2 linked regions of the Homo sapiens genome follow. The main gene of each other region encodes a partner of the protein of the gene in region 2 in a complex. Each region holds a gene or a part of one and is shown on either strand. Other genes may lie near its edges.

Region 1 (3,749 bases), on a different chromosome or scaffold from region 2:
GCTACATCCTGATGCCTGAAGAGCTCATCGCTGATGAGCAATGTGTCAATTGCCATGGCTTCATTGGCCTTCTCCACCTGCTTGAGTCCATAGAAAGCTCGATCCGGTTCATGCTGTAACATTTTATAGAAGTCATCCAAGGCTTTGACTTCCCCAGCAGCTTTAGTGTCTGAAAGGCGGCTAGCCACAGTAGGGTCACAAAGGGCCTCTTTCAGGGAGTACTTGTGTCCGGAGGAGGCATGTACCTAGAATCACAATTACAAAAGTTAGGCAAAATAATCTCCTAGAACACCCATTAATCAGCTCACAAAGGCTTAAAGCCAAAAGCGCTAGTAAGGCTTCATATGTTTCAGCGAAGTTTACTCCATAAATTTGCTAGACATTTAACATTCTCTTTTTATTTCATTATCTCATGAAAATCCCAGCTAAGTAAAGACTTTCTCTTCTTATTTTTCCCAGTTCTAAAACTTTAGGAGTAGTTTATACCAATCCCTCTGCCCATTCTTAATTATCCCTGGGTAAGATTGTTTTACCTGAAGAAATTTGGACCGGTTTTCCAGGAGCAGTTTGTTGTCGGTCTTCACTGCTTGTTGAAACAGGTAGTCGCAGAACTGCTCCCTCACAAATCCTGGGCTGGCCACCAGGATGCACTTTACAACATCAAAGTGTATGTGGCGCTGGATAGCCTGGACCACCTGTTCATAGAACCGCTCCAAGGCCCGGTCATGCTGAGAGCAATTGCCTTTCCTTTTCCTAGGGATGTTCACCTCCACCTTGGCCCGAGTGAGGGTCATGCTGGGAGTGACTAAGCAGATATGGGCGAGGCCTTCCTGCATGACCACAGCCGCCACATCAGCGCTCCAGGCTGGGTCACAGGCCTGCTCGATGCGCTCCAGTACCACACTATCCCACTGCTTCTTGGCCAGGGTGAACTGGCGGTTGGGCTCCAGCTCGATGGTGTGGTAAGCCCCCATCTTGACATACTCATTCTCTTGGATGTTGGTCCCCTTAACCCGCAGCTGGCAGGCTTGAGAGTCGAAGTCGATGGCCTCCACGCAGAGAGTGAGGGTAGTGCGGACCCGGTTGCTGCCCACGCTGCCCGTGGAGGACTCTGTCTGTACCTTGCGGATGGTGGAGGCGCGCAGGCTGTCGCCCACCTGCACGAGGTTGTAAGTGTGCCACATGTCCTCAGGCTCCTCGGGGACCAGGGTCACCTGGCCCGCATTGTCCTTCTCGATGTTCTTCCTCACGAGCTTCATGGCCAAGGAAGGGGCTCACTGACAGAACCAAAGGAACCAAGGAGGTCCTCACCTCCGCCCCGGGAGAGGGGATGGGAATGCAGGCCAGGAAGGGGGCGGGGCCCGGTTTCTAAGGGCACTTGCCTGGCGGGAAGGAAACACGCTTGCTTCGACTCATGCAGCCTAGGGCAGCACTTCCTCTATCCTTTCCTCTCTCAGTCTCCCGGCGCGCTGCGTCTAACAGGCTCGGGGAACACTGCAGCGAAAATCTACCCCTACACAGTTCCCGCTGGCAGCACGCAACAGCGGGCTGACGAAATGAAGGCGCATGCGCAGCCCCCGTCCCGCGACCCGACGCACGTCTCCCGTCCCCAAAGGAGAGGCGGGGCCGCAGTTCGCGCGTGCGCAGGCGCACTAAGCTGTGAGGCGCTCCGGACGAATGAACTCCCTCAAGAAGGTGCACAGAGTGGTGGCGAGTCCTTTATTTTAATGCCAAACTTCAACTTCCTAAGTTTTCTCTTCCATCCCTGTCTGTGAAGAATCCGGGGAGTGTGTGAGTGCAAATACTAGTTTTACCTGCCTGCGGCTGCCACTGCAACGCTTCCCTCTGGGTAAATCCAATTTCAAAGCTTAGCAGTAAAAGTAGCTCTCAGAAGTGCAGATTTGGCCCCAACGGCCCAAACTATGCTCGTTTTTGCTCTTGCCTTATCCGCACTCGGACGCTACAAGCCTGTTGGAGCTGGTATTTAGAAGCGGTTTCTGAGAACTACTGGTCACGTTCTGTCTGGGCTCCCAGCAACGTGTCCAGCTGTTTTCTGCGCCTAGTTACCGTGTCTGCACGATCTGATTCACCCAGATGTTAAAGCGCTGGTCCCAAGAGAGAAGAAACTATGTGTGGAATTTACCCCTGGGTGGACCTCTCAGTTGCTTGACCTGATGTCCTGGGAATCCTAGGCTCCAAAGTTGGCAGCCTCAGCTTTCCGCAGCCCAGTAGCCTGTGAAATGTTTAGGTTGGGGGTTGGGTCGCAAGAGCTTAGGGCCAGATCTTCACTGCCAAAGCTAAGCTAAAAGCCGAGGCTATGGGAAGTGGGGAAAAACTATTAACTAGGACTGACCCTGATTGAATAGCTACATAATTTAAAGAAAATCCTTAAGTTACTTAGCATTCTTTATTAGGAAGTGGAAATGGAGAAGTGGGATTGCCTCTTTAAGAGACCGATGAATAGAAAAAACAAAAGAATCTAAAAGTTTCTTGAGAGCTTAGATGGAGTGGAGGGCAGAGAAGTCCTGCACACATAGCTTCTCACTGTCTTTTCTGTCTTTCTCTGTGTGGATTGGAAAGGGGAACTAACCAGCCTGAACAGATGAAACAGGGATGAAAGGAAGGAATCTGAGTTTGGCATAGGCGTGTGGAAGGAAAATAAATCTCGGATCCCCAAACTCATTAAGCCAAAGGGAAAAGTTAAGCTGGGAACTGGGTCACGCAAAACTGCCTTGCCTCTTGGTTTTTAAATGAGATGGCTACCAGATGAAAAGCTACACACCTCGCTCATATTTTGCCCACAAGGAAATTCTCAGTGAGCGCCAAGATCTTTACCATAAAGTGTTTCTATGAAAATTTACCATGGCAATGTAAATAGATAGCTTCTGTTTTCAGGTACAGTCACCCCTCTGCCCTCCTGACACAAATGCATATCTGATTGTTCCCCTGCCCCATTTGTCTATGTTATCTTACGTAAAAATGCAGATTCAGATTGACTAAGCCAGACAGAGGCATGAATGACTATTTTCCCCCTGCTACCCTCTCACATGAAAACTGTATTTCTCAGTATCCCACCCTTTCCCCTTTAAATTTGGAGCCCTCAAAATCATCTTCCCAGAAAGGCATAGACCTGTCTTCCCCGCGCACGTCCTTAATTTTGGCAAATAAACGTCCTAAAATGATTGAGACTTGTCTCAACATTTTTCTCAACTGACAGGCTTCACAATTTAAACTTAAGTGTCATTATCTTCCTAAGAGATTATCAGGGGACGGAAAGGTCCCCTCCAAGGGGAAAGTCCAAATAAGAACCACTACTTATTAATATTTGTGGCCTCTTTTCTCTTTGTTTCTCGCTCTCTATGTCTCCCCTTACTTCCTCCTTCTTCCCACCTTCCTATCATACTGAGTACCCTCAAGAAGTTCCTAATTCACATTGCCTTCTTCCAATTCCAGGAGAACCCAGCAACTTTTCACTAAGCAAAGAACTAATCACACTCAAGTGTGAAGGTGATTTGCCTATCCAAAGGACACTGTATTTTAAAAAAAGTATCTTGTTAACTTAAAATTCCTAATTGGTAGGGTGAAAGTGTGCTTGTGTGTGTATTTGTGAGAGAGAAAGAGAGAGAGAATGAGGAGATAATTTTGAACTGGGGCTTTGAAGTGCTCCTTGATCATCTTTCTAAGTACAATTTATCTTTCCCATAGTCTGCCAAAGATTAAAAGCCACAGAATCACAGTGGTAAGCACAC
Region 2 (3,749 bases):
GAAAAACAAAGTGGGAGTTAAGTAGCGGAACCAGTAGGTTTTAGAACACAAACTCTCTCTAATGAGGTTATATTTCTTAACAGAATTTTTAAATTATTATTCTGAGAATTCAAGAGAAAGCCTAACTGGGAAGAAGAGAAATAAACTGGACCTTAATGAGTACAACTTTTATAAACAAGAAAAGGGGATGAACCTCCTTAATGTTACAGGAACAGCTTGGTTATGATGTCACCAATTGTTTCAAAGAAGCATGACAACATGACAACCTAACCTCAAGAAGCCAAGGTGCTCCCTGAGGCCAACCACCTCTCCTCCATGAAGCATTCCTTAACGTAGAAATCCTGCTTAAATTCCCCCCAATCCATTCTGAATTAAGTGTTCTCATCTGTGTATCCCTCCCATAGCGTTTTCTCAGTACCTTTTGTAGCATTTTTCATACTCTAATAATCTGTAACTCGTATAATCTTCTCCTTTTAGACCACCCTCAAATATCTTACTTTCAGTCCTCAAAGCTTAGAACAGTACTCTAAGCACTAACTTAATGGTGGTTGAGGAAATGATAAACAACTATTAAAGAAATGAATGAATAATAAATAGGCCTATTCATGTACTTTATATTTGCAAAAATCTCTCTCAATCTAAAGTCATTTCTTAGGTGACAATGGTCCACATGCAATACCATCCACTGCAATATTTATTTAAAAGGGCCTCCATTCTAAAGTAACCACCAGAAAATTCACATGTTCTAGACGGACTGAGGTCACAGGTTCCAAATGGAGAACAGGGTGTTAGCTGCCCTCACTCTAGTTAAAGCATACTGATGTTCTATAATAATCTACTGGGGTGCCAATGACAATCACCAACATATTAAGCACTACATGTTCTGCACTTCGTAAAGCATAGTTCTTTATTCTTCTCCTGCATTAGTTCATTTTTGTTTATATTTTTAGTTTATGTGATGCTTGGTGATGCCTATAGTTATCTACTGCATGAAGAGGGATGTGCTCCTCCTAAAAATAATTCTAACTCCTGTTAACTCCTACAGAACATTCATACAGACATTTTTATTTCATTTTTTAATATCAAAAAGTCCTTTCCTATACACTCTTTCCTCTAGTACTGCCGTTTATTTACATTTCAAAATACATTTATATCAAGCATTACCAGCCAAGAACTAAGTATAAACTTCAAGATCCATCTGATCGACTCATTCTTTGGGCCTTTTTAACATGTGTCTTTTCTACCGTCTCCTAAGTTTCCACTTTGAAATTCGTTGAAAAATAAATTAGCGCAAACTGATTCTGCACTAGGTATGTATGGACATACACAAAAGGTTTACCATGTAAATCTAACACAGGTACACGTCCGTTGAATGTATTAAGTCAATCTGTGTTTTACAAATAAGCAACGTTTCATGGACATTTCTCAAAGGGGATCTGGGAGAGAGGAGCTAGAAGCAGGCACGTTAGTGCCCAACATGGGAGGAAACAATGGAAGAGGTGATAATGCTTACGTGCCTAAATATCACCGGATCTCAACCTCACCAATATCCTACCCATATGACGCTATGCAGCACCTCCCCCTCCCCAAATAAAATCAACCCCAGAGGGCAGAAATCATGACTTAAAAACGACGGCATTTGAAAGCACTAGAAGGCCTGTTATATTCCCCAACTGGGGCTCTCCCAATCCCGACAGGGCAACACTGACGAGAAACTCACAGATTGAAGTGGATGCCAACGGGCTAGGATCCCAGCTGTAGCCGGGAAAAGAACGTCCCGGCATGACCCTGCCACCTACCTTCATCGTAGTTATAGCCTCGAACATTCCGATGCCGGGCCATGACGGCGGAGAGGGCGTTTGCCACAGCCCCTTAACTCCTTCCAAAACACTCCGCTTAGATACTGATAAGGCGCCAACTGCAGCCTGGAGAACCCCTATGCGCCATCTTGGCTTCCCGCAGGCCTCTGCGCCGAGCGCCTGCGCAAGCGCGACGTCTTAGCTGTGCACCGCGCGACGGCAATGCCTCAGGGTCACTGTCCGCCTCCCTGAGGGCGCATGCGCACTGCTGTGCATGGCGGGACGAGGGGAGGGAGCGTTTGGGAGTGGCCCCACCCAAAGGTTGGGCGACGGAGGGGGATGGGGAAATCCGCCGCCTAGAATTGACTGGTTTGGACTAAATGTTGCAAGCGGGGAACCTTGAGCTACCTACGCCAGCGTTCTGGATTATTTTCCAAATTTGGTTCCTGATAATCTGAGAAAGCTATGCGCTCAGTAAGAGCAGGGACCTTGTTTTATCAAACTTTGATCTTTCATTAAGCACACAGTGGGCATTCAACAAACTTGTGTAAACTTGGAATCAGATTTAGCCCAGGCCGGTGCGGTGGCTCCTTCCTGTAATCCCAGCACTTTGGGAAGCCTAGGAGGGCGGATCGCTTGAACTCAGGTGTTCGAGACCAGCCTGAGCAACATAGCGAGGCTCCGTCTCTACAAAAAATACAAACACTAGCCGGCCCTGTGGTGCAGACCTGTAGTCCCAGCTACTGAAGAGGCTGAGGTGGGAGGATCCCCTGAGCCCAGGCGGTCGAGGCTGCAGTGAGCTGAGATCGGGCCTCTCCATTCCAGCCCGGGCGACAAAGTGAGTGAGACCTTATCTCAAAAAAAAAAAGAGTCCAAGCTTTAGAGAAGGAAATAAGGCTATTTTTAAACGGGTATATATTATTAAATTGAGACCCTGGCTATATTAGGTCACCCTGCATTCATATAATTTACGACTTCATGTATTCACTCCGTTCGGCATTACTATCCCTAGTAAACAGCGATTTGCCCTTAGCTATGTAAACGATTTTAGCTATATAGACGATATTTATCAGCATCATAAAGAAGGATTCACTGAACATTCATTGAAGACATAATTGTGTGTAACATTGCGAGTATTAAATATAGCTTTTTAGACATAGCACTGGCCTTAGGTGGTAATGCTGAATGTTGTTGATGCATGAATCTATAACCTGCTATTAAATGTCCTCATTTCTCAGAACATAAAGTTAATAATGCTATATAAGAAACCAACCTCATTATACTGAACACCACTTCAGTTTTAGCTTGTGTTTTTGAAATGATGATACTTCACATCAAAGGCAAATGTTGAGTTCTAGAGATAATTAAAAGCTTCCTCAGCTTTTTGCTATGCACAATAGAAAGAAATAAGAGTAATCCAAATTTAGTTTATATTTGTAAGTGGCTTGGAACGTAATTTATTCATGCATTTGAATGTGTTTGACTACAAAAATAGTTGTTTAATGTGGCTCCAAAATAAAAGTTTACAGAAAAATAGAGATAGTTGCTAATGTTACATGGCTTAAGTGTTTTTATTATTTTACACCCTTAGGTAATTTTTATTTTGCAGCCTGTTTCTTTGTAAAAAGGAGATAGAGACACTAACTCGCGAGCTGTGAATAATGTATCCGTATAAGAGGATTTATCACAGATCATAGTAGGTGCTTAAAAATATTGTGTTATTGGCCGGGCGCGGTGGCTGACTCCTGTGATCCCAACACTTTGGGAGGCTGAAGCAGGCGGATCATGAGGTCAAGAGATCAAGACCATTCTGGCCAACATGGTGAAACTCCCTGTCTACTAAAAATACAAAAATTAGCTAGGCATGGTGGCGCGTGCCTATAGTCCTAGCTACTCGGGAGGCTGAGGCAGGAGAATCGCTTGAACCCGGGAGGCAGAGGTTGCAGTGAG

The links. The genes of interacting proteins can lie anywhere in the genome.
Region 1: HBS1L (region 2) and PELO share a complex: the UniProt entries of both Homo sapiens proteins name them as parts of the pelota-HBS1L complex.

The regions. Positions count from the first base shown.
Region 1 is NC_000005.10:52,797,905-52,801,653, reverse strand, and holds part of PELO (protein pelota homolog), read right to left. Parts: intron 1,850-3,749; exon of another isoform or gene 1,770-1,849; 5' UTR 1,260-1,769; coding exon 534-1,259; intron 246-533; coding exon 1-245. UniProt on the Homo sapiens protein: Component of the Pelota-HBS1L complex, a complex that recognizes stalled ribosomes and triggers the No-Go Decay (NGD) pathway.
Region 2 is NC_000006.12:135,052,850-135,056,598, forward strand, and holds the start of HBS1L (HBS1-like protein), read right to left. Parts: upstream 1,974-3,749; 5' UTR 1,843-1,973; coding exon 1,800-1,842; intron 1-1,799. UniProt on the Homo sapiens protein: GTPase component of the Pelota-HBS1L complex, a complex that recognizes stalled ribosomes and triggers the No-Go Decay (NGD) pathway.